Linked DNA regions of Homo sapiens: regions 1, 2, 3, 4 and 6 are each linked to region 5. Evidence: fine-mapped expression QTL. A gene starts in region 5. Each other region holds a variant in brackets. All regions are shown on one strand. Distances are from middle to middle. Region 1 overlaps LOC107984878 (a long non-coding RNA gene). Region 2 overlaps VAT1L (vesicle amine transport 1 like). Region 3 overlaps LOC107984878 (a long non-coding RNA gene). Region 4 has its middle 27 kb from the start of NUDT7. Region 5 holds the start of NUDT7 (nudix hydrolase 7). Region 6 has its middle 42 kb from the start of NUDT7.

Evidence for each region. PIP is the estimated chance that this variant, and not a neighbour inherited with it, causes the effect.
Region 1: its variant is the best candidate, but not a certain one, in a credible set for the expression of NUDT7 in whole blood (TOPMed, PIP 0.62).
Region 2: its variant is the best candidate, but not a certain one, in a credible set for the expression of NUDT7 in tibial artery (GTEx, PIP 0.86).
Region 3: its variant is the best candidate, but not a certain one, in a credible set for the expression of NUDT7 in subcutaneous fat (GTEx, PIP 0.61).
Region 4: its variant is the best candidate, but not a certain one, in a credible set for the expression of NUDT7 in whole blood (INTERVAL, PIP 0.56).
Region 6: its variant is the best candidate, but not a certain one, in a credible set for the expression of NUDT7 in whole blood (TOPMed, PIP 0.55).

Annotation. Positions count from the first base shown.
Region 1 is chr16:77,755,908-77,761,275 of GRCh38, reverse strand. It overlaps LOC107984878 (a long non-coding RNA gene), which reads left to right. Exons shown (of 6, transcript XR_002957866.2): 5 at 3,824-3,889. Among named protein-coding and RNA genes, the nearest start is that of VAT1L, 30 kb to the left of the region's middle. The variant C/T (reference allele first, on the strand shown) is at 2,541.
Region 2 is chr16:77,879,864-77,883,863 of GRCh38, reverse strand. The region is part of intron 6 of VAT1L (vesicle amine transport 1 like); the gene reads right to left. Among named protein-coding and RNA genes, the nearest start is that of VAT1L, 93 kb to the right of the region's middle. The variant C/T (reference allele first, on the strand shown) is at 2,312.
Region 3 is chr16:77,750,172-77,755,539 of GRCh38, reverse strand. The region is part of intron 5 of LOC107984878 (a long non-coding RNA gene); the gene reads left to right. Among named protein-coding and RNA genes, the nearest start is that of NUDT7, 30 kb to the right of the region's middle. The variant C/T (reference allele first, on the strand shown) is at 2,496.
Region 4 is chr16:77,692,402-77,697,769 of GRCh38, reverse strand. No RefSeq gene overlaps it. Among named protein-coding and RNA genes, the nearest start is that of NUDT7, 27 kb to the left of the region's middle. The variant T/C (reference allele first, on the strand shown) is at 2,580.
Region 5 is chr16:77,719,906-77,725,273 of GRCh38, reverse strand. NUDT7 (nudix hydrolase 7) reads right to left here and starts at 2,760. Exons shown (of 4, transcript NM_001105663.3): 1 at 2,657-2,760. The coding sequence starts at 2,691. RefSeq lists a silencer at 2,785-2,914 and an enhancer at 2,628-2,922.
Region 6 is chr16:77,677,517-77,682,884 of GRCh38, reverse strand. No RefSeq gene overlaps it. Among named protein-coding and RNA genes, the nearest start is that of NUDT7, 42 kb to the left of the region's middle. The variant C/T (reference allele first, on the strand shown) is at 2,855.

The DNA.
Region 1 (5,368 bases), 36 kb before region 5:
CAGTTCAAGCGTGATGGTGCATATGAGAGATATTGAGCAGATATTTATTCAAACACCTACCATAAACTGAAAAGTTAATTTAATTGCTCTGAGCTTTTGAAATAGCCTCCAAACTGTTACCAGAATGACCTTTCTTCAATTACTTCTGACCTTGTCAATGACCTGATTTTAACCCTTTAATGGTAGCCTCCTATCTACAGGATGAACATCAGTGTCCTTGGTGAGTCATTCAAAGCATTTCCTAATGTGATTCTTACTGACTTCTTTGCTTTATCTTCTGATCTCTCTGGCTTCATATATACACTCTAGTTTACCTAATCGCTACAGCTCCCTGGATGGGCTTTGCTGTTTCATGTCTTCTTTTATGCACTTTCAAATGCTGTTTCTGCTGTTTGGAATGTCTCTCCCTGTCTTGGTCACCTGCTGCATTTCTAATCATTTTTCAGGACTTAGCTCACCACTTTTGTAAAGCCTTTGAGATTAACTACTTCCTGCCATTGGAAACATATAAACCTAAGGGATACATTCATTCATACTGGATTACGATAGGTTATAGTCAATTTATTTACTTGCCTTTCTCCATGAAGGCATCTCCAGGTGAGCATATACTAATTGTGACAGCCACTAAATGAATACAAATTTCAACTTTTATTAAAGACCTACTAAGTGCCAAATTAGAGACCCAGGTATAACAGGCTGTATAATAGCCCCCCAAAACACCCACATTCTAACCCCTAGAACCTGTGAATGTTTCCTTAAAAGGAACATTGCAGATGTGATTAAGTTAAGGATCTTCAGATAGGAAGATTATCTTGGAATATGCAGGTGGGCCCTCAGTGTAATTACAACTGTCCTTTTAATGGATGGTAAGAGGAGGGACCACGTGGCAGTGTGAATACTGAAGCAAGGTGCTATACTGCTGGCTTGGAGATGGGGAAAGGAGGCATGAGCCAAGAAATGAAGTGCTAGAAGCTGGAAGGCAGAGGAACAAATTCTCCCCCAGAGCCTCCGGAGGGAGCACGGTCCTGCGAACACTTTGGGTTCAGCCCAAGAAACTGATTTCAGATTTCTGGCTGCCAGAAGTTCAAGAGAATACATTTGTATTGTTTTAAGCTGCTAAGTTTGCAGAAATCTGTTACAGCAGCAATAGGAGCCTAATACATCAGATAACAGATATAATAGGACAGGAATGACAGATGGTAATTATAGAGGAAGTGTGAAATAGAGCAGTGCTTCTCGAACTTCAGTATGCACAGGAATCACTGGGGATCTGGTGAAAGTCAGATGCTGAGTCACTAGGTCCAGGGAAGAATCTGAAGCTCCACATTTCCTTGCAAGCTCCCGGGTGAGGACGTTGCTACTTGTCCAGGGACATCACTTTGAGTAGCAATAAAATAGCAATGGCCAAATGTAGATGAGACAGATCAAAACAAAGAGTTTTGGAGAGGCAGCTGTGATTCTTGATATAATTTCTGTTTTTTTTTTTTTTTAATTTGTACACACTTGTTTTGTGGCCTAAGATATGGTCTATTCTAGAGAATGTTCCATGTACAGGTGAAAAGAACGTGTATTCTGCAGCATTTGAGTAAAATGTTCTGTAAATATCAGTTAGGCCTACTAGATGGAGTGTGTAGTTTAACTCTACTGTTTTCTTTGTTGATTTTCAGTGTGCACAGAGTTTTAAGGACACAAATCAGATGGGCATGAGTGAAGTGCCCAGGATGGACCTATGTTCATCCCACCAATGATTCAGTGCCCCTCCTGGTCAGGTGTCCAGAGGCCTCACACTTTTATTATGTCCATTATTCCCAGCAACCCTGCAGAGTAGGCATCCTAATGCTTGTTTGACAGATAAGGACATGGAGGCCTAGAGGATTAATGGCTTTGGCCACACCCACATGGGACTAGAATTGTGTAACTCCAACATATGTGGGTTACTTTTTTTTTTTTTTTTAACTTTACTACCTTTTCGAAATCATGGATAATATACATGTGCTATGGGGCTTTGCAGAAAGATTAGTGATCCCAGCTAAATGGAGATTTTCATCCTCCAATGAAACATGCTCATATTACCAGGGACAGAAATTGGACTTGCTAAACCTAGGCTGAAAAGGAACCAGAGTTTTTATCAGGGCATCTTCTTAGGGAAAGTGACAGCCCAAACGCTCAGAAGGCAGAGTGAGCCCTGCGCAGACAAGAGGGCTGAGAGGGTGGAGAAGGAAGGGCCTTGCCTCCCTGTTGGTGGTAGAGAGGATGTAGAGGAAGGTGCATGAGTATGAATCAGCCCTGTAAGAGACCCCACAGGGTCAGATCAGAGAAGCTAAGGGCAGTCAGCAAATCCAAGGAGCAAGGAAAAGGCAAAAATAGGAGGAGAAATTAAGACTAGTTCCAGATCCAGGACTAGATCCAAAACCAGAGACTAGATCCAATGCCAGGACTAGATCCAAATCCAGGACTGGATCCAGAACGGGGACTAGATCCAGAATGGGGACTAGATCCAGATCCAGAGACTAGATTTGGATCCAGAGACTAGATCCAGA[C/T]CAGGACTAGATCCAGAACCAGGACTAGGTCCAGATCCAGCACTAGATTCAGAACCAGGACTAGACTGAGAACCAGGACTAGATCGAAATCCAGGACTAGATCTAGATCCAGAGACTAGATCCAGAACCAGGACTAGATCCAGAGCCAGGACTAGATCTAGAAGCAAGACTAGATCCAGATCCAGAGACTAGATCCAGAACTAGGACTAGATTCAGATCCAGAGACTAGCTCCAAATCCAGGACTAGATCTAGATCCAGAGACTAGATACAGATCTATAACTACAGAGGGACAGCAATGGTATCAAGAGCCAAACATCAGCCACAAAGGGAGCCACATCCTTTATCCATCGCCAGCTATGCAGCCTTGGCAGGTCTCTTCTTCTGCTGCCTGAGAATGGTTACACTGATGCTGAGTGGCGGTGAGGAATGGAACGAATCTACACAAGGCTTCGGTCATTCTATGCTGTGATGAAAGTGACCAATTCTCTTAGAATCACAGTGTCTGCTATTGTTCTTTATGAGTTAGTGGACTTATGGTCCCAGATGGAACAAAGTGACCTGACATACGAGTTTGCCACAGAGTTCCTGCAGCTTCTGAATGAACAAGCCCTATATTAGCAAGCTTTTTCTTGGTATTGTTTGGGTTATAGTTTTATGGCATAGAAGATAAAGAGAAATCTTTGCATTTTTTCTAAATTATTGAAGATCATCAGAGGTTAGGAGGAGAAAGGAAAAGTAAACTTTGGGTAGCAAGTTTTAATCTTTTTTTTTTTTTTTTTTTTTTTGAGACACAGTCTCGCTCTGTTGCCCAGGCTGGAGTGCAGTGGTGCGGTCTCGGGTCACTGCAACCTCCAACTCCTGGGTTCTTGCCATTCTCCTGCCTCAGCCTCCCGGGTAGCTGGGACTACAGGCACCTGCCACCACGCCCGGCTAATTTTTTGTATTTTTAGTAGAGATGGGGTTTCACCATGTTAGCCAGGATGGTCTCGATCTCCTGACCTTGTGATCTGCCCGCATTGGCCACCCAAAGTGCTGGGATTACAGGCGTGAGCCACCGCGCCCAGCTGGAGGATTGTTTTTATGGAAGTGCTGGTAGGGGTGGGATGCATTCTTTCCTTTGGACTTTAAACTTGTGAACAGAATTCTATAATCCAGGTGTTTTGGGTATTGTTTCTAAAAATACTTTGGCCCCTTAATGATTTAATTTTTATTGATCAACTTTAGGGTAATGGAGGATAACCCAATAAATTAATAACATATTGCATGGTTCATTTCTCATTAGCTCATCCAAGATCAACTGCAGAGGAGGACGAGGGAAATTTTATATGGGAACAATTATCTGAAAAATGTGAGTATCTCAAGATAATCTGATTGCTTAGTTTTAGCTAACCCTGAGGTCTAAATACTTACAGCCAAGAGAATTTATCTGATGAGTTTAGTCCAAGAAACACAACTTTATTTTCCCACTACTAGCTGAATATAAGTGTCAATTTAAGAGTGCTACATGCCCTACAAACATCGATCGCCTCATGTTCCAAATGAAAAAGTTCATTAGTGAGCTTCTCTCCTGATGTGTTATTATTAACTGGAAGCTAAAATTAATGAATTTTGTCGGATTGCCTCAAGTAGTGATAGGGAATGATAGAATTCTTCAGCAGTCGATTTCTATTCTATCATCTGCTTAGTTTTGTTGTTGTTGTTGTTTTCTTTTCTTTTCTTTTCTTTTTTTTTTTTTTGAGGAGTCTTGCTCTGTTGCCCAGGCTCTGGAGTGCAATGGTGCAATCTCGGCTCACTGCAAGCTCTGACTCCAGGGTTCACGCCATTCTCCTGTCTCAGCCTCCCGAGTAGCTGGGACTACCGGTGCCTGCCACCACGCCTGGCTAATTTTTTGTATTTTTAGTAGAGACAGGGTTTCGCCGTGTTAGCCAGGATTGTCTGGATCTCCTGACCTTGTGATCCACCCGCCTCGGCCTCCCAAAGTGCTGGGATTACAGGCATGAGCCACGCGCCCGGCCTTTTTTTTTTTTTTTAAATAAATGTCACTCATAGGGGTCTTCTGAACTTAGTATGGCCTGGAAATCTCAGGGCACAATGGATAAATTGCATTATATTTCTCCACTGCTGTAAATGTATTTGATATTGGGGTTCCTTTGGTTGCAAGAGACAGAGATCCAGTTCAGACATGCTTAACAAATCATGTTATCCACACACATAACTTGGAAATTCACTGATGATCAATAGCCAAAGGCAATATGAAAACATGCTGTATAGATGAAAAACACAGCTACCACCAAGCCCTTAACACATCTGATTTCTCTTCTTTTGGTCTTTCATGGGAAATGTAACATTAGTGGGGCTGGAATATAGGTTCTGTAATAGCAATCCTCACTTAAGTAGCCTTGTGTTCTTGGGCAAGCATTGAAATTCACCAAATCTTTCACTGTACAACAGAGCTTGCCATTCTAGTCTGGCACATAGGATTATAAGGACAAGTAAACAAGAAGCCAAGTGACAGAACTCTATGAATATATGTAATCGTCCATTTCATTTGTTCTTTGGGTCCTTTTAGACCCAACTGTTTCTAGTAGAAGTGGGTGTGGAAGAGGAAGCCATGGAGAAATAGTTGCCTACTCAATGTGGGCAGAGAATGAAGGTTTTCAAAATCGACAAGTCCCATGAAACGACGCACTCTTAGTGTTGTACTGAAAATCTGCAGAATGAGAGACACATGTCTTCTGAATATGATGGCTCAGACTATTTCTTATTTATAATATTTTCCCAAATAATTTCTCATATTTTTCTGTAATTTAAATCCATATTTTCAGGT
Region 2 (4,000 bases), 160 kb before region 5:
CCACTCTGACTGCAGAAGCAGCTTTCCTGGGGGAGTGGTTTTGATAAGGCTAAATCTGGGGAGGCGGGTAGGGATCCATCGGATGAAGAGGGAGGAGGGATGATTTAGGAAGAAGTAACAGCATGAAGAAATGATGAGGCCAAATTGTTGGGACTGAATCAATGGTTCTGAACTGGGGGTAGTTTTGTCCCCCAGAAGGCATTTGATATTGTTTGGGGATTTTTGTTTGTTTGTGATGACTGAAGCGGGAGGTGGTGCTACTGGCGTCTAGTGGGTGGAAGCCAGGGATGCAGCTAAACATCCCACAGTGCTCAGGACAAAGAATATTCACAGCAAAGAATAATCCACAACAAAGAATTACCCAGCCCCAAATATCCATAGCATTAAAGCCGAGATGCCCTGGACTAAAGTTCTGGGTGAAATACCTACAAACTATTTAATGTGGCCATCTCTTTTCCAGTCTGTCATCTCCTCCCTTCATATCAAAATAAGTAAATAATCCACTGGAAACCTAGAGAAATGGGGATCCAACTGCTTTGTTATGATTTAATTGCTTTTCCTTTGGTGCTGGTTATAGGTTAGAAATCCAAGCGTCCAGTTTCTGGGGGATTCTAGGGGATAAGATGTTCAAAATCATTTCAATACAGGATGCAAAGAGGAATGTGATGGGCATTTAGAAACATTGATAGCCTTTATGTTATCATTGAGCTCATTTATATCCTGTTTTCGAAAAGAATTAAGGAGACTGACTAAAGTGAAAATTTTTTATTTTTTTTAATTGGGAAGCTCGTGTCACTAGGAGAATAAGCATGGAAAAGGCAGGTTGAAAACAATGATGAGGTTCATATACAAAATTATTTACAAAAGCACATTCGGAGAGGGCCGGGGGACCAATAAGAGCCACGCATTTGACCTTAGGTTTCTTGGCTTTCAGTTTTGATGGTCTTACCTGGCAAGGGTTTGTGGCACAGATGGTGTGGTGAGGCATGTGGTTTGGAAATCACTAAATAACTTAACGTATTCCTTACATCCAAAATTCTATTCTATGGGACAGTGATTTTTAGGACCCTCATTTAAAACAAACCAACTTGGGAAATACAGCAAATATAGAAAAATAATAACTTGATTCACAGTGTATCTGCAATGCCTCAGTGAATGTTTGTGGAATGAATGCTTGCTGCAAATGTACAGTTGTGGTTAAGAAGGTTATAGAGCTGAATGCCTAGTTTTGAATCTCAGCTTTGTCACTTACTAGCTGTGTGACTTTAGGCAAATCTCTTAACTTCTCTGTGCTCAATTTCCTCACTGTTCCTCATGGGGTGGTTATGAGGAGTAAATGTGTTAATGCATATCAAGTGCTTAGCACAGTGTCTGCCACGCATGAGGTGCTCTATAAACATACACCACTTTTATTATCTTAATTTGAACAAGATGTTTTTGGTTTAGTGAATAAGAGCTCCAAATTTGGAGTCAGATTGCTCTGTAAATGTTAACTTCTTCTATTAGTATCATCATCGTTATGGTGTGAAAGAAAATAGCATGTTTGACAAATAGTGAGGCACAAACTGCAGCGATTTTAAGATGCAACATCATTAAGATAGCTGAGTGGGAAATTCCTGTATAATTCCAGTCGACCTTTAATTTCTAAGCCCTTCTTGAATACATTGAAAAATTTTTTTTCTAGGACTTTTCAGAGCAAAGTTCCACCTCTTCGTAGGCCCTCTCTTCAGTTTTCTTCCAAATGACCCTCAGTGTTTGAGCAGGCCTCTGAAAGAAAACATCCTCATTCTTGACCTCCAGGTACAAAGCGTTCTGGAAATAGGAACCCCTGCTTTGGGCAGAGGAATCTCCATCCCCATCCTGGCTGTGCATTTATGAATGCCTTCATTGAGCATGGGCACGCTGCAATTATTTCATTAACACTGTGTGTTGGGATTGTGCATTTAGAGGAGAAAGGGAAAACACTTCTTACAATTGTATGTAATTTGGGACCAGTGTGGTTACCCACAGCAGTCTGTCAACATCATGTTAATTACAGCCACAGCAACAGAGCAGCTGTGCATGGCACAAAGCCTGTCTTCAGGGGACACACTCCAGACAGCATCCTTCATTACACTCCATTCTTGCTCCTCCTGTCGGTTCTGTAGTTAGGATGATCCTTGACCCATATTTTAAAGCCCAAATGCAAAGAGAAGACCTTTGATTTGAATCTCACAAATGCAGGGAGTATTATCCATTCCAGAATGTTTGGGGCTGATGTTTCTGGAAGCTGATGTTGGCACTTTGAGGGCATATGAATAGCACATAGTGC[C/T]ATACTTAGAATGAATTCCAAACTCCTTACCATACTTTTCACTGACCACTTTGTTTTAATTGCCTCCACCCACCCTGCTATTTTCTATTTTAGCACTTGATTTTTATCCTCTTCAGAGGTTTAATAGCCATTTATAATCATGTTAATTAACATATCTTGCTTATTTTGGGTTTGTCTCCCTCATTAGTATATAAGAACCAAAAAGGCCCAAAGTGCACCTATCTTATGTGCTGTAATAGCCCAGTGCTTGGCACAATACCACAAACAGCAGGTGCTCAGAAAATGCCTGTCAAATGAGTGGATCAATTGACGCTGCACTGGCACATAGAAGTCCAAAAGTAGAGGGGGCAAAAATAAACCCTTGTGAAAAGCAGCAATCCCCTGTTGGGGAGGGGTAAAAATAAAAGTTCCTACCATTTGACCCAGCAGTCTCATTACTGGGTATATATCCAAAAGAAAGTAAATCGTTCTATCAAAAGGACACATGCACCCGTATGTTCATTGCCATTCTATTCACAATAGCAAACACATGGAATCAACCTAGGTGCCCATCAATGGTGGACTGGATAAATAAAATGTGAGACGTATACACCATGGAATACTATGCAGTCATAAAAAAGAATGGAATCATGTCCTTTGCAGCAACGTGGATGCAGCTGGAGCTCATTTTCCTAATCAAATTAATGCAGAAACATAAAAACAAATACTGCATGTTCTCTCCTAAGTGGGAGCTGGGTACTCATGGACATAAATATGGGAACAGTTAACACTGCAGACCACTAAAGGGGACTGGGAGGGGGGCAGGGGTTGAAAAACTATTGGGTACTATGCTCACTATGTGAATGAGAGGATCATTTGTACCCCAAACTTCAGCATCATACAATACCCGGGCAAAAAACCTGCACAGGTACCTCCTGAATCTAAAAAGTTGAAATTACTAAAAAAAAAAAAAAAAAAAAAATACCCTGGAACGTGCGAAGAAAAAAAAAAAGCAACATGGGCTGGTGCTGGTGTACTGGTGGTTCATTTCAAAGAAGAGAAGGAATTTGGGCTGGGGAAGGGGTGTTGAAATGATATTTAAAAAACTAAGTTTGGCCGAGTACGATGGCTCACACCTATAATTCCAGCACTTTGGGAGGCTGAGGCAAGCGGATTGCTTGAGCCCGGGAATTCAAAACCAGCCTGGGTAACAGGGTGAAACCTTGTCTCTACCAAAATAAATACATAAATTCGCTGGGTATAGTGGCACACACCTGTAATCCCAGCTACTTGGGAGGCTGAAGCAGGAGGGTTGCTACAGCCCAGGAGGTGGAGGTTGCAGTGAGCCGAGACCATGCCACGGCACTCCAACCTGGGTGACAGAGCTAGACTCGGTCTCAAAAAAGTTCAAGCCAACATCAGTATAATTCTAGCAAGTATAGCTCCAGATAGGAAGATAGATCAGAGTCAATTTGTAGTGAGGTGAATGCCCAGGGATGTCGCTTTGCAATGGCCGACAAACTAACCACCATATTGAAAGCATGATCACCCAAGAGAGTGGTTCATGAGCTTGTCTGAGTCTACAAGTCACCTCAGGATCTTGTTAAGGTCATAGGGTCCTCATTTCTATCTCCGATTCAAGAGGATGGGGAGACAGAGAAATCTCAAGTACCCCCAGAGACCTGGTCAGAAAGTAGCAAAGTGAAAGGC
Region 3 (5,368 bases), 30 kb before region 5:
GCATCTTGTTTATAGCGGGATACCCTACAAAGCTCCAACATGCCTGCGCATGGCTGGACTCCAATGCTGGCAAGTTGCAATGTTCTTCCTGGTACATGGCTCAGCCCCCATGTGAATCGGTTAAAGAAAATAGATACCCAAGAGAGGGAGCAGCCACAGCCTCACATATCTTCCTTACATTTAGAAAACTTTCTCAAACTTCTCAGAGTGTTTTATATGTGGCCATTTTTTACTGCAGGTGTGAATATAGTAAACTGGGGTTAGAGGGGTGATGTTATGGCGCACGCAAGCAATGGACTTGGAGGGAGAACGAAAGGGAAGGAAGATGGTCTCGCAGCCATGAATATTCTACTAAAGTGTGGCCTGGGCAGCTAAACTGATGTACTCCAAAGATGTGCCAACGATGGCCTCCCTCTGATCACCTTAGGTGAATTCAGTCCCTGAAAATTCTAGTTTCAGAATTTGAATTTTTGCTTTCTATCTTTTTTAATTTAGGGATTAGGTTTTTTGTTTTGAGGGGATTTTGTGTTTTTAAGTTAAAAAAAAAAACTCCTCATACTCAGACATTCCAAGTCCTTATATTTTATATCCTTTCAAAACTTTGTTTTTAAAATTACTTTTATGGATTATTAAAGCAGTGTGTACACATTGTAGAAAAATTAGGAAAAAAGCCCCCCAAAAATAAAAACTACCAAAAAACAAAGAATGTAAGTGATAATTATAATCCCAACCTCCTCCCTGAGAAGACAATTTTTAACACCTCTATGAATATCCTTACAAATAGAGAAGTATGGATAAAACTGACAAAAATGAAATCATATATATCTTTCTATAATTTACCATAATTTATTTAAACCATTTACAACTTGTTTGGTGTCTAGGTTGCCTTCAATTTTTCCTAATGTATACAAATATAAAGCTGGACTAATTAGCTGAGAATAAATTAGACAATCTTTAAAATAGAAAAAAATGAATAATTCTAAAACATAATTAAATATGCATGAATAGTACTAAAATTAGCCCATGATGAAACAAATCATCAGTATTAAAAAATAATACAAATTAAAGTAGCAGTGCTTGGGAATTTTATTTTTACCTAATCATTACTGTGATTTCATTCTTGTATTGACCTACTTCTTGGCAATAAAATGACCTTGACCATCTAGTTTTCAGCCAAATTAATTCATTCATCCACTCAGTACTTATTTATTGAATTCCTAATGGAAAATAAAATATAATTGAAAGTCCCCACACTCACAGAGCTTGTGTTCTAGTGTGAGAGATAGGAAAAAAAACCAAGTATGTACCCAAAAAATACCAGATATGGAAGTAAAATATGGGTGCATGAGAGAGAATGACATCAGCGTTAGACTCTTCCAGGAAACGACAGGTGTAGTGAGAACTGATGATAAAACAAGTGCCATCCATGCAAAAACCAGGGTGAAGACAATTGCTGGGAGAGGGGCATCTAGTGCAAGAGCACTATGGTGGGGGCAAGCATAGCGTTTCCAACAGGAGAAAGAAGCACAAGCTGAAGGAAGTTCAGTGGCCAAGATCAAGAAGGGTCAGAAGTAGGCGGAGTCCACAATGTGCCAGTTTTGTCAACCAAAGACAAAGGTTGAACTTTATTACAGGCACAGGTGGGTAAGCGCACTAACCCACGCCTGCAATCCCAGCACTTTGGGAGCCAGATGAGAGAGGATCATTTGAGGGCAGCCTGGGCAACATAGCAAGACCTTGTCTCTACCAGAAATGAAAAATAAAGAAAGAAAAAAATAAAGTCAGTCACAGTTGGACGACACTAGAAGGTTTTAGGCCAAGAAACGGCATGACTTTATTCATGACTTCAAAAGATCACTCTGGATGTTGGGTGAAGAAGGGCATATAAGGAGCAAGAATAGGTGCAGGGGAGGTAAGGGGTTGAGGGGGATGATGAGTCTGGGACCAGGTGCTACAGGTGGAAAGGGGGACAGGATGCATTTAGGGTGTGAATCAGAAGCAGAATGAACAAACTTGCTGATGAAGTGCAGGGAGCAAAGAGGGAGAAAAACAAACTGAAGCATAACGCCTCTGGGACTACTAAGAAGAATTATTTTGTCTGGTGAGTGTTTTTGGACAAATAGCATAACATGTTTGGGCACCTATTATAATATAAAGCATAGTACAAAAATTGTTTCTGATAATAATAATTGTACTTTCCACTTATTAAGTACATGCTATGTACTTAATGCTGATCTCTTTTTTTCTTATTGAACATAGAGGGGATAAAAATATGTACGTTGAATTAAATACTATTCCTCTCATCTCACTTATTAAATTACCAAATAACCCATGTTTTCCATATGGCCTTTGCCCGTTTGAGGATTGCATTGCCAAGGAAACAGATTGTTAAGCACAGGCTCTGCAGGTAAATCCTATTAAATATGTCATAATTCAAACAAAATGCACAAAGCCAACTAGGCTTGGGTTTGGAATATTAGCTTCCAAATGTCCCC[C/T]TCCTAAGGCCTAACTATATACTTAATAAGGTTCAACGTTTAGATGCCTGTCTAATTCTACCCAGAGCCCTGGACTTGTACATTCCTGACCCAAATCCCTGATCTGAATGTCAGAATTTTTAATTAACCTCCCCAAATGGCATTTTCACATAATAAACTCTATGCATGCTGCTAGCTTCGAACAGTAGACAAAAAGTGATCCTTTTCTTTTCCTCAGTCAGATTTTTCCTTTGTAAAACATTAAGCAGAATGGCTTCATTACCTGGATATGCTTAAATGAGGCTGGGGAAAACCCAGAATTGGAGATTTCAAAAGGAAAAGGAATTAGAGATTAACTAGTTCCAATCCGCTTTATACGTAAGGAACCTGAGGTTCAGCAAGATTGTGATTTCTGTCTGCAAGGTTACAGAGCATATTTATGGACAGTACTAGGGGCAATGCCTACCTCCCCTGGCTGGTGATGTCTTCCTTTGTCTCAGGGTTCTTCCATTCACCACCCTCCTCCTAAAAGTCATCCTTGTTGTTCCTTCAGTATAAATTCTTCATTTCCTCCTCCCTCACCTACGTCCTTTGCTCCCCAGTCGTCTCTTCTGGCCCTCATGGCCTTAGCTCTACCTTTCTTCTGCTCATTTCCTAAATGCAGCTTATTCCTCCAAGTCCCACTCCTGATCTTATCATTCACCCCCCTCACTGCAACTCAGGCTCAGGCTCATCAAGCTCGTTACTGGATCAATGAATTCACCCACCAAATGTGTTTTGCACAGCATGTTTTTTTCAATTCAGTGCCCATGGCTTTTGCTAGAAGGCTGTCCTCATTTGACCCTTGTCATTTCATTAAAAAATATCCAGTGGAGTGAGAAAAAAGTGTAATTGAAACCAATGTACCACAAATAAACTCTTCTTATTTAGGAAAATTCACTGCTGAGCTTATTGAATGTGGAAGGTGGGTCCTAGTGGGCATGAGATGCATGGAGCCAAATAGACACCATCCTCTGAAAAGGAAATGAATGTCATTTTGGTGGTGGGAGCAAAGAGAAAAGCAAAAAGGAAGAACAAGCATGTGGAGGAATACAGCATCAGCCTGATACCCAACTTGGTAGAATGGACAGGACTTTTAAAGAACAAGAAAAACATAATATTCAAATTTAAGTTTGGCTCTCTTATGTTGCAATCAAAGTTTACCTGGCTGATATCCCTGTGTCTCCAATTAAAGCCACTCAATGATTTACATACAAGTTACTTTAGGAAAAACAAGGAGAAGCAGTCTCTGTCCTGGATTTGGGTTGGCACTAAGGAAAAAGACCTCAAGATGCAGAATACAGAACTAACATTCACTGAAGCTGGAAATTGAACCTAAGGTGATTAGAAGAAAGGTACTCTCTGAAGGATTTGAATAAATCTTGGGGAGAATATCGAGCTTTCCACTGGAATTACAATGGGGATTTAAGGCAAGTTTTTGTAGATATGAAGGGGCATGGGTCCTAAATATATGGCTAGCATTGAGGCTAGAAGGGTAAAGAAGAGCTAAGTCTGCTCCTCTGGTAGTTCATAGTACATCAAGACAGCTAGGTATGGAAATAACTAAGTTACAAGGCAAAAACTGGTTAAAGATAGGAGCCACTCACTCATGTCCACTCTGGTAGAGCACTTTATATACCTTATACAGTAAATGCAGGAGGGGGTGATTTACAACAATGCTAGACCACCTTAGGTTGACCTTTGTCAAGCAGTCTGTTGGGAAGAGACTGAATTTTCCTTAGCCCACTGAATTAGCTATTTGAGTAGAAATAGCTACTTCTCATTTAGTTGTACTCTTTTATTTAACAAATATCCATTGAGCACCTACTCTTTACCCAGTGTTGTGCCAAGTGCTAAGAGTACTCTTGTGTATGGACCAAAATTGAGACATGACTGTGCCATTATGGAAGTTGAAGTCCAGAGAATGAGGGGACATCAATCAAAGAATCAAGGGGATATCATATTGTAACTATGACAGGAGTTATGAAGTAGAGGTACATGGCACCAAGAGAGCTTATAACAAGGAGAACTAACCTAGCTAAGGTGTCAGAGAAGGCATCCTTCAACAATAAGTATGAGGTAACCAGGCAAAGGGAAATGATTGAGGGATCAGCTTGTGCAAGAGTTCTGAGGCACCCATGGACTGAAACTGAGCCTCTACAGGCCAGTGCTGTAGGAGTGGATGAGCAGGGAGGGGGCTCATGGTACTACACATAACCAGATAGGTAGACAGGAGCCAGGACACGGCCTTGTAAGAGCCATCCATCTTTTTCATAAAAAACAATGGGAAGCCATTTGAGTGCCTCAAGAAAATATGATGATATTTATATTGAAAAATAACTCTGGCTATAGAAGAGAGATGGTGCAGGGTAATAGTTACCAGATAGATGCAAAAGTTTTCAGACGTTTATGACAGCTTTAACTAAGTTGATGTCGGTAGAGATGAGAAGAACTAGATTTGATAGATATTCAGAAGATAAATTCAGTACGATTTGGCGACGGATTAGATATAGGAGTGTCTTAATTTGGTTTACCTAGAAACCTAAAGACAAGATTCAAGTTATTTATTTGGAATCTACAGGGCACATTGTTATGGGAGTGGAGAAATGAGACAAAGAAGGGAAGGCAGCCAATGAAAAGAAGTGTGAAACTTGCCACCACAGCGGGCACCCAGAGTTTAGTTCAGTTTGGGAGCAAGTACAGAACACCTGTCTCAGAATTATCCCACCCAAGGGGCAAAGAACCTGAGCTACTGATATGCAAAATCCCATCAGTCATTGGTTGAGGGTTAATGTAGGGGACATTAATTCCCTGTCACTTCCAGCTGGCCTGCTGTGGCTTTGGAAAAAGCCTGC
Region 4 (5,368 bases), 28 kb after region 5:
TTCTGTTAGTCTCTGTCGATCCCTCTTTTGTTTATGTTCATTGCCTGTGTTACAGCCTCTGATTATTTGTTTCCTTCTCTTATCTGTATCCCTAGAGTGTAAGCTGCAGGAGGGCAGGGAGAGTGATTGTCTTTTTCACTGTTGTGTTCCCAGTACTGAGCATGAAGCTGTTCGTTAAGCACTAAGCAGGTGCTGATACTAGTTTCTCATTGCTGCTGCAACAAATTGCCACAAACTTTGTGGCTTAAAAGAATGCCAATTTTTTTATCTTAACAGTTCAGGAGGTCAGAAGCCCAAAAGGGGCTTCACTGGGCTAGAATCAAGGTGTTGGCAGGGTTGGAGGCTCTGGATGTTCTAGGCAGGGCAATCTGTTCCCTTGCTCTTTTTGTATTTTGGAGGCTGCTCTTGCTCCTTGGCTGGTGGTCTCCTTTCTCCATCTCTCTGTGCCTTTCTTTCATAGTCCCATTTCCCTCGGACTCTTCTGCCTCCAACCTCCACTTTTGAGAGCCTTGTGATTACAATGGGCCCACCTAGATAGTCCAGGATAATCTTCCTAGTTTAAAACCAGCGGATTAGTGTTCTTAATGCCATCTGCAACCTGAATTACCCTTTGCCATGTAATTAAACATGCACAAGTTCTGGGGATTAGGAGATGGACATCTTGGGGGACCATTATTCTACCTTAATAAATATTTATAGAATATTTGAATAAACAAATGGCCAAGTAGTTTGGAAGTTCCTTGTGGACAAATGGCTGTATTTACGTGTCTTTTTGTTGGCTTTTGTGCTTGCTTAAGCTAAGCCGATATTCAGGCTTTTAATTACTCTGGGCCCTTCCTGATTCTCACAGAGGTACAGGGGACTCAAGGATAAGTTCTTCCTTTAATTACCAGCTTCAGAAGAGAACCTGGAGACCCTTAAGGCACTAGGTGAAGAGGGATTTCAAGATCTAATTAAATATCTAATATTCTTTGGAAGGCATGAGATTTATAGATGGTGCCACTGTAATTGGCATGGTCTCTCCAGGAGTGACAAATGTAGGCATTATAAATGTTTGCACATAAGGTAATTCTAACCAAGATGATTAATTTCTGGGAGATAAATACAGGTAAGCTGAAGGCCATGTTTGCAATCAAGTAGAGAGCATTTTCTTCGATCTGAATTGAATTCCAGCAATGGAGTGGAAAAAATATAGAAGTAGATATTTCATGGGGACCATATGAATGGTGCCATCCTCACCTATAAGTGGGATGAAGTAGTAATGTGTCTACTGAGAAAAGTTGCAGACATCCAGCATCCCATAATCTTGTTTTCCCCAAGGACAACACAGTAAAGATAGTTGTGCAAGATGATTTTTTCTTCCTGGGTGAGACCTCACATTTATCTGTCATCTCTTGGGCTATTTTTAGTGGCAGTGCTTTGAAAACTTAAGGAGCCTATCTCCCTGCACCAGGCTCAAGCACAGGGTTGCTATGCAACAGGCTCATCTCCCTGGTGGTTCTCACACTCTTTTCTCTCAGATATTCAGTGAACTGGACCTTGGCTGAAACCAAACAATAGACTGAAACTGCCTCATGAGAAGAAAGAGCAACAGCTTTGGAATCTTACCTGCCAGAGTCCTCACTTCACCTGCTCCCAGTTGTGTGACTGTGGGAAAATCTCCTTATCTCCTCAGGCCTCAGTTTCCCTTTGTGTAAGATGGGGATGTTACTGGTATTTAACCCATGAGGTTACTGTGTGGAGCAAATGTGATTCTACACTTAAAGCATTGAAAACAAAGAGGTTTCACAGAATGGTGGACCATTTTCAATTTGCACAAATTGAGTTTTGTAAAATTGTGAAGAAATTCTATCTGTTAACACTTTGCCCCTCTACCTATTGTGTTTGTTAGACTCTATCATAAGAGACACAGTGGCTCAAGCCTGTAATCCCAGTGCTTTGGGAGGCCGAGGCGAGAGGATCACTTGAGGTCAGGAGTTTGAGACCAGCCTGGCCAATGTGGTGAAACCCCGTCTCTACTAAAAATTAGTTGGGCGCGGTGGCTCACACCTGTAATCCCAGCACTTTGGGAGGCTGAGGCGGGTGGATCACGAGGTCAGGAGATCGAGACCATCCTGGCTAACACGGTGAAACCCCGTCTCTACCAAAAATACAAAAAATTAGCTGGGCGTGGTGGCGGGCGCCTATAATCCCAGCTACTCGGGAGGCTGAGGCAGGAGAATGGTGTGAACCCGGGAGGCGGAGCTTGCAGTGAGCCGCGATCGTGCCACCGCACTGCAGCGTGGGCGACAGAGCGAGACTCCGTCTCAAAAAAAAAAAAGAAAAGAAAAGAAAAGAAAAGGAGGGCTGGGTGCAGTGGTTCACACCTGTAATCCCAGCACTTTGGGAGGCCGAGGTGGGTGGATCACTTGAGGTCAGTAGTTCAAGATCAACCTGGCCAAAATGGCAAAAACCCGTCTCTATTAAAAATACAAAAATTAGCCAGGTGTGGTGGCCCATGCCTGTAGTCCCACCTACTGGGGAGGATGAGGCAAGAGAATAGCTTGAGCCTTGGAGGCAGAGGTTGCAGCGAGCCAAGA[T/C]TGCGCCACTGCACTCCAGCCTGGGCAACGGAGTGAGACTCCATTCCCCGCCCACCCACCCCCTAAAAAGAAAAGGAGGAGTCAGCAAATGGGATAGCATAGGAATAAGCAGCTGGAGGAAAAAGGAGAGGGTCGGTCATAGGGGAGAAGAGAGGAGGAGTCAGGGAGGCCATGCAGCAGACTCTGACTCGGGGAAGGGCTCCTAACTGACTTTACCTCCGACTTGGGCCTGGGAGGAACCAAATCAGTATTACTTTATCGAGACAAAGTGATTTAACATGCCTTTATTAGATGTATTAGAGTTAAGGATCTGTCTAGGAGTGATAGTTTTATAGTGCTCTTCAATGGTTCTCAGAATGTATTTATGACATTTTGGTAAAGAATTCTTTCTTCCTCTCAGAGCGATGGTCATTTAAAAACGGTATAATATGGTTAGCGAAGACACATACACCATTGAATGGTGCGCCCTGAAGGGCCAGTGAACTGTGTAGACAGATACAATTTAACCCTCTTCATTCCTTCCTCATAGGTAAGGCAGTGATGAGGGAGGGGGGTGCGTAATGGACACTTGGATAAAACAATTTACAAACACAACCATGTTCACCAGCAAAATTATTTCATCTGTGTAGTTCAACAACTTTGGTACCAGTGCCCCATGGAAATAAAAAAGGCTTCCCTACAGCTTGTCTTCCTCCTCTATCCCAGCTGATCTTACATATTTTCTGTTAATTCTCAACTTCCAAAACACATTTCTGCTCTAATAAAATGAATGGACGTAGGTGACAGAAAGCAATGATTCTTGGAAATTATGAGTATGTTCTCTCTCTCCTCCTCCCTCTCTTCAAATGCACATTACGTCCTTACTGTGTTCCAGATACTGAATTAGATTCCGGGAATAGAGCAGAGAACAAAGAACACAGAATCTTGACCGAATTGTCTGTATTTTTTTTTAAAAGGAAGCAAATGCCTTAAAAATGACCCCACATAGATACTTATGAAAATGATAAAGAAAATAAGCAGAATGTGGTGATGAGGAAAGGAAGAGGTGCTTGTTTCCTATAGGATGGCCAGAAAAGGACTCTGAGGACGTCATATGTAAGCCAGGAGCTGAACAATAAGTCTTGAAAAGAGCTCGGGAAGAAACCTGCAGGCAGAGGGAGCGCCCAGGTGGGAAGGTGCTAGAACTCACTAGCAGTGGGGGAGTAGCGTGAGGCATATTGAAGAGGAGGAGAGGACCCCAGGGACCTGATGACCGAGCCCTGAAGACCACCTGTGAAGACTCTGAAGGTGCAGAGGGCGGTAGCAGAGATGAGATGGGTGGGACAATTGTGAATGGCCACACCTGTTCAGGTAGGAGCCCAGGGTGCCCTGCCCCAGGGTATGGCTGATGATTGAAGACAGGAGGGCAGATTTGAGGAACATTTTACTCAGTCCCATCTCCATGTGACTACACTTGCTATAGTAGTATTTAAGATTTATTTATTTATTTATTTATTTTTTGGGCAGAGTTTCGCTCTGTTGCCCAGGCCGGAGTGCAGTGGCATGATCTCAGCTCACTGCAACCCCCACCTACCAGGTTCAGGTGATTCTCCTGCCTCAGCCTCCTGAGTAGCTGGGATTACAGGCACACACCACCACACCCAGCTAATTTTTGTATTTTTAGTAGAGATGGGGTTTCACCATGTTGGCCAAGATGGTCTCGAACTCCTCACCTCAGGTGATCTACCCGCCTCGGCCTCCCAAAGTGCTGAGATTACAGACGTGAGCCACTGTGCCTGGCCAGTATTTAAGAAATTTTACTAACTCGTGATAATATCTCTTCCTGGAGCTTTGGGGGATGATGACATCTGCTAGATCCTTTTCTATAGTGCTGTGAGGTATAAACTAAGCTGCTTTTGGGTACTCAATTCTTGTTAATATCTGTAAGAGAAGGAGGCTTGTTAAAATATCACCCTCGGCTTTCATATTCTTAAGGGAATATCACATGGCTTCCCATAGCCTCCTTTGAAGGGTTCTTTCAAATTAAAACCATGGTGCTGGTGGAGGAAGGGAATAAAATGATAAAGTGTTTTTGCTTTGAAATTCACTGGAAAAACTGCCCAGTCAGTAAGCATTTATTAAGTGCTTCCGTGTAGGGCAGCTTTTGACCTATCGAGTCTCAGCCTAGTTGTAAAGTCAGAGACACAAGTAAATAATGTCAGTGGATTATAGGTTTGAATATAATGTGTACTAAAAAATGATGGGGCCACAAAGTCAGGAGTTAATGCTGCCTGTTGAGACTGAAGAGATTTCTCAAGGGAAGTGAGATAGAGGCTGGGTTGACAAGTCTGAGCATTGGTTCACCAGGTGGAAAAGGGGAGTGAAGGGACTTCAGCCATAATGAAATAGTCTGTGCAAAGGCCCTGAGGCAAAAAGAAGTATGCAGGTCTCCAGAAAGCTGAGTCATCTTAAAGGTACATGGTGATGAGCAGCATCAGATGGGACTGGACAGCTGATAGTGGGTAAGCCTATTATGGGAATCCAGGACATTCTAAGCAATTTGGACACTCACCGATAGGTCAGTGTTTTTTTTTTTTTTTTTTTTTTTTGAGACAGGGTCTTGCTCTGTTGCCCAGACTGGAGTGTAGTGGTGTGATCTCGGCTCACTGCAACCTCCACCTCCCAGGTTCAAGTGATTCTCCTGCCTCAGCCTCCCGAGTAGCTGGGACTACAGGTGCCTGCCACCACGTCCAGCTAATTTTTGTATTTTTAGTAGAGATGGGGTTTCACCGTATTGGCCAGACTGGTCT
Region 5 (5,368 bases):
AAATTGCGTGGTTGTTCGCAAGATGAAAATGACAAAAAAACCTTCTAAGCACACAGTTTAGTACACAGGTTCTCTTTGAAACATAAAGTATGGTAAAATGTTTTTTCAATAATGCAACAGTTGAATTTTGAAACCCATAATTATATTCAGAGAAGACAGGTTTGATGAAAAAGTCATTGTTAAGGTTAGAAGGTTAGAAGACTACCTTCTGTTAAGCTGGCCCTTATGTTCTCAAACTCTTATGTCTTCAACTGCTTATAATAGTGGTTCCCAAGCTTTAGCAGCAACAGAATCACCTGGAGCGCTGGCTGTCACATAGACTGCGAGGTTCAGTCCCAGACTGTGACTCAGTAACTCTGGTGTAGGGCCTGAGAATTAGCATTTGTATCAAACTCCCTCATGACAGCGTTACTGACGCTGTGGACAGGGGAACACATTCTGAGAACAATTTCCCAATAATATGCAAGCATTTGGATTTAAAACCGCAAATGGTGCCCTTCCTATGTGGACTTGTTTTGGTCCTTTTGACAGGTGTGTTCTACTGCTAGTTTGTATAGTGGGTTGAACAGTATCCCCTCACCCCTGAAATTCATGTCTACCCCAAACTTCAGAGTGTGACTTTATTCAGAAATAGGATCTTTTCAGATGTAATTAAAGTGAGCTCTAAATCCAATGACTGTTGTCCTGATAAGAAGCAGAAACGAGCCCAGTGCAGCGGCTCACGCCTGTAATCCCAACACTGGGAGGTTGAGGCGGGAGAATTGCTTGGGCCCAGGAGTTTGAAACCAGCCTGGTCAACATGGTAAGACCCTGTCTCTACAAAAGAAAAAAAAAAAAAGCATAAATTAGCTTAGGCATGGGGCATGCAACTGTATTCCCAGCTACTTGGAAGGCGGAAGTGGGAGGATCACTTGAGCCCCAGAGTTCAAGGCTGCAGTGAGCCATGATTGCACCACTGCACTCCGGCCTGGGTGACAGAGTGAGACCTGACTCAAAAATAAAATAAAATAAAAGAAGAAAAAACATGGAGAGATGCACACAGGGAAGAAGACCATGTGAAGATGGCGGCAGAGGTTGAAGTGATGCTGCTGTGAGCCAAGGAATGCCAGAAACCACCAGAAACTGGAAGAGGCAAGGAAAGGTCACCCCCAGAGCCTTCTAAGGGAGTGAGGCCCTGCCGATACCTTGATTTTGGACTTCCAGGCTTCATAGCCATGAGAGACCATTTCTATTGTTTTAAAACACCCAGTGTGTGGTACTCTGTTATGGCAGCCCTAGAAAAGGAACAGCTGATTTTACTTTTTCTGTGGGAAGGCAGCTTTGCATAGTGGGCAGAATCAGCTATTTAAGATACCCAGAATTGGCTTCAAATGTATATAGGAGGCCTGGTACAGTGGCTCATGCCTGTAATCCCGGCACTTTGGGAGACTGAGGAAGGTGAATCACTTGAAGTCAGGAGTTCGAGACCAGCCTGGCCAACATGGTAAAACCCCACCTCTACTAAACATACAAAAATTAGCCGGGCATCGTGGCACATGCCTGTAATCCCAGCTACTCAGAAGGTTGAGGCAGGAGAATCGCTTGAACCCAGGAGGCAGAGGCTGCAGTGAGCCGAGATTGCCTACTGCACTGTAGCCAGGGCGGCAGAGTGAGACTCTGTCTCAAAAAAAAAAAAAAAAAAGTGTATACAAATGACTTCTCTGAGTTTCATCTTCATTTGTGTCAGGCTTGAGGATATTTAAGAAGATTAAATGATGCAGTTCATATACTGTGGCTGGCACACAGCTGGTGCTCAGGGAATGGTAACCACTGTCATAAATCTCCCCATCATTAGATAAGCAGTTGTTTGCAGGAGGTATTTGCTATTTTTTGCCTCTTTCTAGGTGGCAGGGTGCTCACCAGATGTGGTTGGGTAACGGCAGTGTATTTCAAAGACCAAATGGCCTGAAAAAAATCAGTGAATGCTGGCACAGGGATTGCACAGTGCATCTGGATGCACGCAGGCCAGCCTCCAGAAAAGGAAACTGTGGGCTGGTGGCTTTTAACCACCCGGAAACCACAGAACTGACCAGACAAACCAGCCAAAGTAAAAGGCTGCAAAAACGTTATCTGTCCACTTTAGGGGCTGGCCGCTGGAATAATCACCAAGGTATCAACAGCAGTAGCAGCCACCCCGTTCTGAGCATGGTCTCAATTTTGACGTTTCTCATTTTATCCTCACAACAGCCCGGCAAGTGATCACAGGGTCACCTCCAGGCTCAGAGAGTTTACGAAACTGACAGACCCAAGGTCACAACTGAAAGTAGCCACCGGGGGACTTGAATCCGGGGCTGCCTGCTGCGGGTCTGTGCCACTGTCGGGGGTCCTGGGGTCCAACTCTGGAGACGCGGATTGCAGAACAGCCAAGCCGGCTGGGAAGGGGAGCAGCGTGTATGTAAACCATACTGGCTTAAGCCGGCTCTGTTCCTGGCCAGAGCAGTGCAAAGGTTCGGGGACCCTGCGGGTTGCTGGAGGCGAGTGCTCCCCCATCCGGCGCTCGCAGGTGGACTGGCGGGAGCTGCAAAATCAGTCCCGGCCAAAAGGCCCCGGTGGCCTCCGCTACGATCAAGGCCGGGCCTGACCAAGCTCGGGGTGCCAGGGCCCGGAAAGCCTTTACCTGACTGGCTCCTCGGGAAGACCAAGTCGTGACATTGCCCTGGGGAATGTTTGTTTCCGGGCGGACTCCTCGGAGCTGCTCGGTCGGTCGCGCTTGCGCAGAGCAGCTCTGGGCTTGGGAGCGGCCTAAAGCCAGAGAGAGGGGCGGGGCTTAGAGCACGAGGCGGGGTGGTGTCTGGGGCGGAGACAGGGGGCGGGGCGGTGCGAGATCTGGGATCGGAGGCCGGGATCGGGGCGGGGCGGGGCTTATAGCCAGAGGCGGGACTTGAGGTGGGGAGAGGCGCGGGGCGGGACTTAGGGCCGGGTGTTCCTGGTTGCTCAAAGCAGTTTCTGCCGGGCTCCTTGGGCTTCTATGGAAGCAAGAGGTATAGGAGGAGTTGTGGAATTTAGAGCTGGAAGAGTTAAAAAAAAAAAAAATACAGTGTTGGTGAGGTGATAATATTTTACACTCGCATTCGCTGTTGCTGGAAGGTTAAGGTGATTCATTCAACTTTTTGGAACTGCTGTCAGCACCTGTTCACCGACCACCTGTATGCACTGGGTGCAGATCCCACAGCTAGCGAAAAGACACGTGGAGCTCACAGTCAAATGGTAGAAACATAAATTAATCACACAGGGCTGGATGCAGTGGCATATGCTTGTAATTCCAACACTTTGGGAGGCCAAGAGGGGAGGATCACTTGAATCCAGGAGTTCGAGCCCAGCCTGGGCAACATGGCGAAACCCCATCTCTACAAAATAAAAATAAAAAATTAGCCAGGCGTGGTGGCACACACCTGTGGTCCCAGCTACTCAAGAGGCTGAGGTGGGAGGATCGCTTGAGCCCAGGAGGTCGAAGCTGCAGTGAGCCGTGATAGCACCACTGCACTCCAGCCTGACAGAGGTAGACCGTCTCAAAAATAAGAAGAAGAAGATAAGAAGTTTTTAATGCAAAAAAAAAAAAAAAAAAAAATCACACTGATAAAGCAGTGGCCTTTGGTCCTTCTAGAGCGTGTGAAGGAGAAATGTGACCCAATTAGGAGACAGAAGAGGCTTGGTAGAGGAAATAGAAGTGCAGCTCATCTTGAAAGCAGTAGTTCTCAAAGTGTGGTCCTCAGACCAGCAGAATCAGGATCACTTTGGTCCTGTTAAAAATGTGGACTCTGGGCCAGGCGCTGTGGCTCACACCTGTAATCCCAGCACTTTGGGAGGCCAAGTCGGGTGGATCACCTAAGGTCAGGAGTTTGAGACCAGCTTGGCCAACATGGTGAAACCCCATCTCTACTAAAAAAACAAAAATTAGCCAGTGGCAGGCGCCTGTAATCTCAGCTACTAGGAGGCTGAGGCAGGAGAATCGCTTGAACCTGGGAGGCGGAGTTTGCAGTGGGCCGAGATCGCGCCATTGCACTCCAGCCTGGGCAAAAAAAAGCGAAACTCTGTCTCAAAAACAAAACAAAACAAAACAACAACAACAACAACAACAAAAACCAAGAAAGAAAGAAAGGAAAGAAAGAAAAGAGAAAAGAAAAGAAAAGAAAAAAGACGAAAAGAAAAGAAAAGAAAAGAAAAGGTGGACTTTGGGGCCCATGTCACAACTGCTGAATCAGAAGCCAGGTGTCAGGCCCAGTGATCTGTGCTGTAAGGGGATTCTGATGCTCTGTGCGGGATAGAGGACATAAATGAGGAAAAAGGCAAGGGAGAGTGTTCAAGGAAGAGGGCAAAGTTTGTGCAAAGACAGCAGAAAGGGGCTGGAGAACAGTGTGTGTGAGGGAGCCTGGTGCGAGCTGAGAATCCAGGGGTCAGTGTAGGGCTGACTTCTCCCTTACAGGCACAGGACACACACAGTAATTTTAGGGACCTGTGAAAATGTTTTAATTGTAATTTCTTTTTAAATTAGAAGAAGAAAAGGTATGTAATAAAAGCAATATATAATAATGAATCCAGCTTGGATGATAGTCATTTTATGAATTCAGTCATAAAATATTCACTTTAAAATTATTTTATGGAAGAAGGGGTGCACAAAAACAAAGTAGCTAGGGCCCATGAAAGTAATATTGTGGCTGGCCCTAGGTCAGTGGGGCAGTTTGTGAAATTATTAATGAAATGAAATATTAATGAAATATCGCTGTGATATTTACAACATCCAGTGTTTACACACCGTGACATCAATGAAATATCGATGTGATATTTATAATATCCAGTGTTTACACACTGTGATATTAATAAAATATGGCTGATATTTGTAATATACAATGTTTACACACCGTGATATTAATATAATATCGCTGTGATATTTATAATACCCAGTGTTTCCACACTGTGATATCAATGAAATGTCTCTGTGATATTTGTAATATCAAGTGTTGATGCACCATAACATCAATGAAATATCACAGATATTTACAACATCCAGTGTTTACACACCATGACCTCAATGAAATATCAATATGATATTTATAATATCCAGTGTGTACACACCGTGATATTAATAAAATATGGCTGTGATATTTGTAATATACAGTGTTTACACACCGTGATATTAAGCAAACATCGCTGTGATATTTATAGTATCCAGTGTTTACACATCGTGATATAAATGAAATATCGCTGTGATGTTTATAATATCCAAGGTTTACAAACTGTGATACCGATGAAACATCGCTGTGATATTTATAATACCCGATGTTTACACAAAGTGTTTACACACTATGATGTTAAATATCGTTGTGATTTT
Region 6 (5,368 bases), 42 kb after region 5:
GGTGAACGCACTTGCACCGTGGCGGTTTCCTTTCTCCATCTGAGGATTCCACAGAGTGCTCCAGCGGAGTTTGTTGCTTCCTCTGAGAAACACTGAAGAGGAGGTGGGTAGCAGCCAGTCAAACCGCCGGAGACAAGCTGCAGCTCTTGATAATAAATGTGTGCAAGCCTGGCTGTGTGGAGTCGGGAGTATCGGCTGATGCGTGTTGTGCTGAAACCAGCCTCCATTAGGTGAGAATCACCCTGAATGGGAGTTCTGAAATTTAAAGTTTCTACTGGGATATGAATGAAATGGAGGAGAGTGTGTGTGCATTATTAATATAGTCCTCATCATTCATTACCTTTGGCTTTTAGGATCTTGTCTCTCACACAGCCTCTCAATAGATGACTATAATTTGGAGGTTGGATGACCTGAGACCGTTATGTAGACGAAAGCCAAAAATTTCTAGAACTGCGATATGCATCATTACTTTTCACAATTCCCTGTAGCAAAGAATATGGATTTATTTTTTTTTTTTTGGACAGGGTCTCACTCTCTCACCCAGGCTGGTGTTCAGTGGTGTGATCTTGGCTCACTATAGCTTTGAACACCTGGGCTCAAGCTACCCTCCTGCTTCGGCCTTTTGAGTAGCTGGGACTCCGGGTGTGCACAACCATGCCCAGCTAGTTTTTCAATTTTCTTTACAGACAGGGTCTCTCTGTGTTGCCCAGACTGGTCTCGAACTCCTGGGCTCAAGCAGTCCTTCCACCTCAGACTCCCGAAGTGCTGAGATTATAGGTGTGAGCCACCATAACGGCCAGAATATTACAGTTATGAGCAAGACACATCAACCTCTGTACTCATATTCATAAAAATTGTAGTAAGTATTCAATAATTGTTAGAATGATGATGTAATAAAATAATAACCAAGGACTTTTTATGGACTATCTCATTTAATCGTTATAGCGATGCTTTCAGGTGAAGAAACTGATGCTTAGCAAAATTTAGTAACGAGGTCAAGGCCACAAAGCTGATGAGAGATAGAACCAGCAGCATTTTTGTAGACCTGACAGCCAATTCTAGGTTCAGTTTCTAGTTATTTTTGTAGAAAATCAGAAGTTAACTAGACAGATATTCAAAGCTATCCTTATTTGTAACATATTTCAGTTAACGAGATTAAGACCATGATGCATTTAATAGATAGGGCTTATTCTGTGTTAATCAATGCATTCATTGGTCCATGCAATATGATTGAGTATACACAATGAGGCAAAGTCTATACTGAGTACTGAAGAGATAAAAATAAGTAAAGTATAGTTCCTTGAGAGAGGCTAGAAAATCTTATCATAAAAGGCATACACAGGGTATTAGGAAAACCAAGAAAAAGAATACTTCACTCAGGTTTAGAAGTGGGAGTGGAGTTCAAGGTAGTTGCACAGAGCCAGTAAGATAAGTCAGAAAGCTGTTGTAAATGTAAAGAGGAATGGGCCAGGGCATGGCTGGGAAATGTAGAAGGGTAGGGTAGGGTGACAATCTGAATATATAATTACTGGGTTACTTACTAAGAGACCTAGCAGTCGTTTCCCTTTCAACTTCTCCCCAACCATGGAGCAAGAACAAGGTTCGAAGCAGCTTAAAACCAGAAGGCTCTTTGGATTAAAGATAGTTGAAATTCCCAGCATTTTGGAGTTCCTAAAACAACTCAGGAAACTCATGCTCCTGCTAACATTCTGTTTTCTACAGCACCTTTGTCCCAGGGGTAATTACAGGGCATCTTTTTTTTTTCCTTCACACTATAGCTCCTTTTTCTTTCTTTCTTTTTTTTTTTTAAGAAAATCATTTGTCTTATTAAAAATGACCAGTATGAGAGGCCAGGTACGGTGGCTCACGTCTGTAATTCCAACACTTTGAAAGGCTGAGGTGGAAGGATTGCTTGAGCCCAGGAGTTTGAGACCAGCCTGGGCAACTTAGCAAGACCCTGTCTCTACAAAAAATTACCCACGCTCCTGCAAAATAAATAAATAAATAAATAAAGACCAGCCTGGGAATGTAAAATAGCGCAGCCACTTTGGAAAACAGTTTGGCAGTTTGTTAAAAAGTTACACATAAAACAAGTTCAGGCCTGGCACAAAGGCTCACATCTGTAATACCAACACTTTGGGAGGCTGAGGCATGAGTATTACTTGAGCTCAGGGGGTTGAGACAAGCCTGGGCAACATAGGGAAACCTTATCTCTTTAAACAAAACAAAACAAAACAAAAAAAGCTGGGTGAGGTGGCATGCACCTGTAGTCTCAGTTACTCTGGAGACTGAGGTGGGAGGATCGCTTGAGCCCTGGAAGGTGAGGCTGCAGTGAGTAGTGATCATGCTGCTGCACTCCAGCCTAGGCAACAAAGCGAGACACAGTCTCAAAAAAAATAAATAAATAAAATTCAAAGTATTAAAAATTAGACATAAATTTACTATATAATCCAGCAATTCTATTACAATGTATCTACACAAAGGAACGGAAAACACGTGTCCACATGAAGACTTGGACATGAATTATCATAGCAACATTATTTGTAATGGTTGAAAACTGGAAACAATCACAAATCCATTGAATGGTAAATGCTTAAACAAAATGAACTGCATCCATAAAAGGAATATTAATCAGGAATAAAAAAGGAACAAAGCCCTGTTACATGCTAGAATGTAGATGAATCTGAAAAACATATGCTGAGTGAAAGAAGCCAGATGCAAACACAGTTTCTATGGTGGCATTGACGTGAAATGTCGTGAAAAGCAGAACTTTAGCAACAGAGGATTAGGGGTTACTGGAGGTGGAAATGAGGCATATAACCTCAAACTGACACAAGGGACCTCCTTGGGCTAA[C/T]GGAAATGTTCTAAAACTGGATTATGGCACTAGTTGCATAACTGAAAATTTACTGCAAAAATCATTGAATTGTACACTTAAAACAAATGAATTTTATGGTACTGTATATAAATTATATCTTTAAAAATATTTTTATAATGATCAATAGCCTTCTAAAATTTTCATTTAGGTTAGATGGCATATCTGAAATGTCATTTTAAACATTAACAACTATAGCAGTCATTTTGGCTCCACACTCTAAAAAACACAACTTTCAAAGCTGTTTTATTCTTTGGCTTAGGAAAGAAAAGAACACAAGACTTTAAGATGGCTCAGGGATTTAGTAAGTCATTGAAGCTGAAACTTTCCACCATGTTCATTGAAATTAAAAGATTATGATTTGCAGATGTTTTCCAGTGGGTCTGGACTGTTTGTCAGCATTTCAGATTCTGTAGAACTTTTTGGGCATGCAATGGAGCAATTAGTGCTGACAGCCCTTTTCTATAATTGTGCTATATCTAAGGCTAGCCCTGGAAATAAACGGTGTTGCTCAACTAACAGCTACGAATTAGCCAAGACAAGAGCATGTTACTTTCCTTTGGTTATGTATCAAATTAGCATTTCACAGGATCGCATGTCTTTTTTGAAGAGCCATGAAGCAGACATTATGGACGCATTTAAAGGAGTCTAATTTGCCTCGATTCTAGTTGTATGTATTAAGCCAACTTTTCTTGGATAAGGACTGAAAGGTATGTAGAGAAATTTAAGTCTAGGAGAGAGATTTATAAGATCAGCACAGATCATTCCCAAGAATCCAAGCAGGCATCGCATGACATTTCAGACTTAACCTTTCACCTCCTAGGAGAGCTGGGTCTTCTGCTCCAGGCTTCCACAGTGATTAAGAACAGTCACTAGTCTCAACCACGCCTATGTTTTGAGTTCTGATTCTACCACATGTTACAACCTTTTTTTGTTTGTTTGTTTGTTTTTTTGAGACCAAATCTCGCTTTGTCGTCCAGGCTGTAGTGCAGTGGTGTGATCTCGACTCACTGCAACCTCCGCCTCCCAGTTTTAAATGATTCTCCGGCCTCAGCCTCCTGAGTAGCTGGCATTACAGGTGTGTGCCACCACGCCCAGCTAATTTTTGTATTTTTAGTAGAGATGGGGTTTCACCATGTCGGCCAGGGGTGGTCTCGAACTCCTGGCCTCAAGTGATCCACCCACCTCCACCTCCCAAAGTATTGGGATTACAGGTGTGAGTCCCCGTGCCAGGCTTTTTTTTTTTTTTTTTTCCTGGGACAGGGTCTCACTCCTGTCTCCCAGGCTGGAGTGGCAGTGGCACAATCACAGCTCACCACAGCCTTGATGTCCTGGGCTCAGGTGATCGTCCCGCCTCAGCCTCCCAAGTAGCTGGGACTATAGGTGCATTGCTAATATTTTTTGTATTTTTAGTAGAGATGGGGTCTCTTTATCTTGCCCAGGCTGGCCTTGAACTCCTGGGTTCAGGCAATCCTTGCCCCTCGGCCTCCCAAAGTGCTGGAATCACAGGCATGAGCCACTGTGCCTGGTATCTCCTACTATCATTGCAACTTTTGGTGAATGATATGGTTTGGCTGTGTCCCCACCCAAATCTCATCTTGAACTGTAGTTCCCATAATCCCCACGTGTCGTGAGAGAGACCCAGTGGGAGGTAATTGAATCATAGGGGCACTTACCTCCATGCTGTTCTCATGATATTGAGTGAGTTCTCACAAGATCTGATGGTTTTATAAGTGGTTCTTCCCACCTTCTCACTCTGCACTTCTCCTTGCTGCTGCCACGTGAGGAAGGATGTGTTCGCATTCCCTTCCACCATGATTGTGGACTTCCTGAGGCCTCCCCAGCCATGCTGAACTGTGAGTCAATTAAGCCTCTTTCTTTATAAATTACCCCGTCTCGGGTATGTCTTTATTAGCAGTGTGAGAATAATCTAATACAGTGAGTACCTGACATTTTTTAATCCTCAGATTTTCTGTCAGAAAACATAAAAATTACGTCTGTTCCAGAGGGTTTTGTTTTGCTTCTGTTTGTTTGTTTTTGAGACAGAATTTCGTTCTTGTTGTCCAGGTTGGAGTGCGATGGCACCGTCTCAGCTCACTGCAACCTCCGGCTCCCGGGTTCAAGGGATTCTCTTGCCTCAGCCTCCCAAGTAGCTGGGATTACAGACGCCCACCGCCATGCCTGGCTACGTTTTTTGTATTTTTATAGTGACGGGGTTTCACCATGTTGGCCAGGCTTGTCTTGAACTCTAACCTCGGGTGATCTGCCCGCCTCAGCCTCCCAAAGTGCTGGGATTACAGGCGTGAGCCACCGCACCCGGCCCCACTGGGTTATCGTGAGGGATTATAAAAATAATTTATATGGAGAGCTTGGCCCAAATTAGGTATCACAAAACATAGGCTATTAGTAACGGTAGTTGTGGTGTCCTGTAGAATCTTCTATCAGAGATAGAAGCACTGTTTTGTAATTATAGTTTAGAAACATCTAGAATGTGTT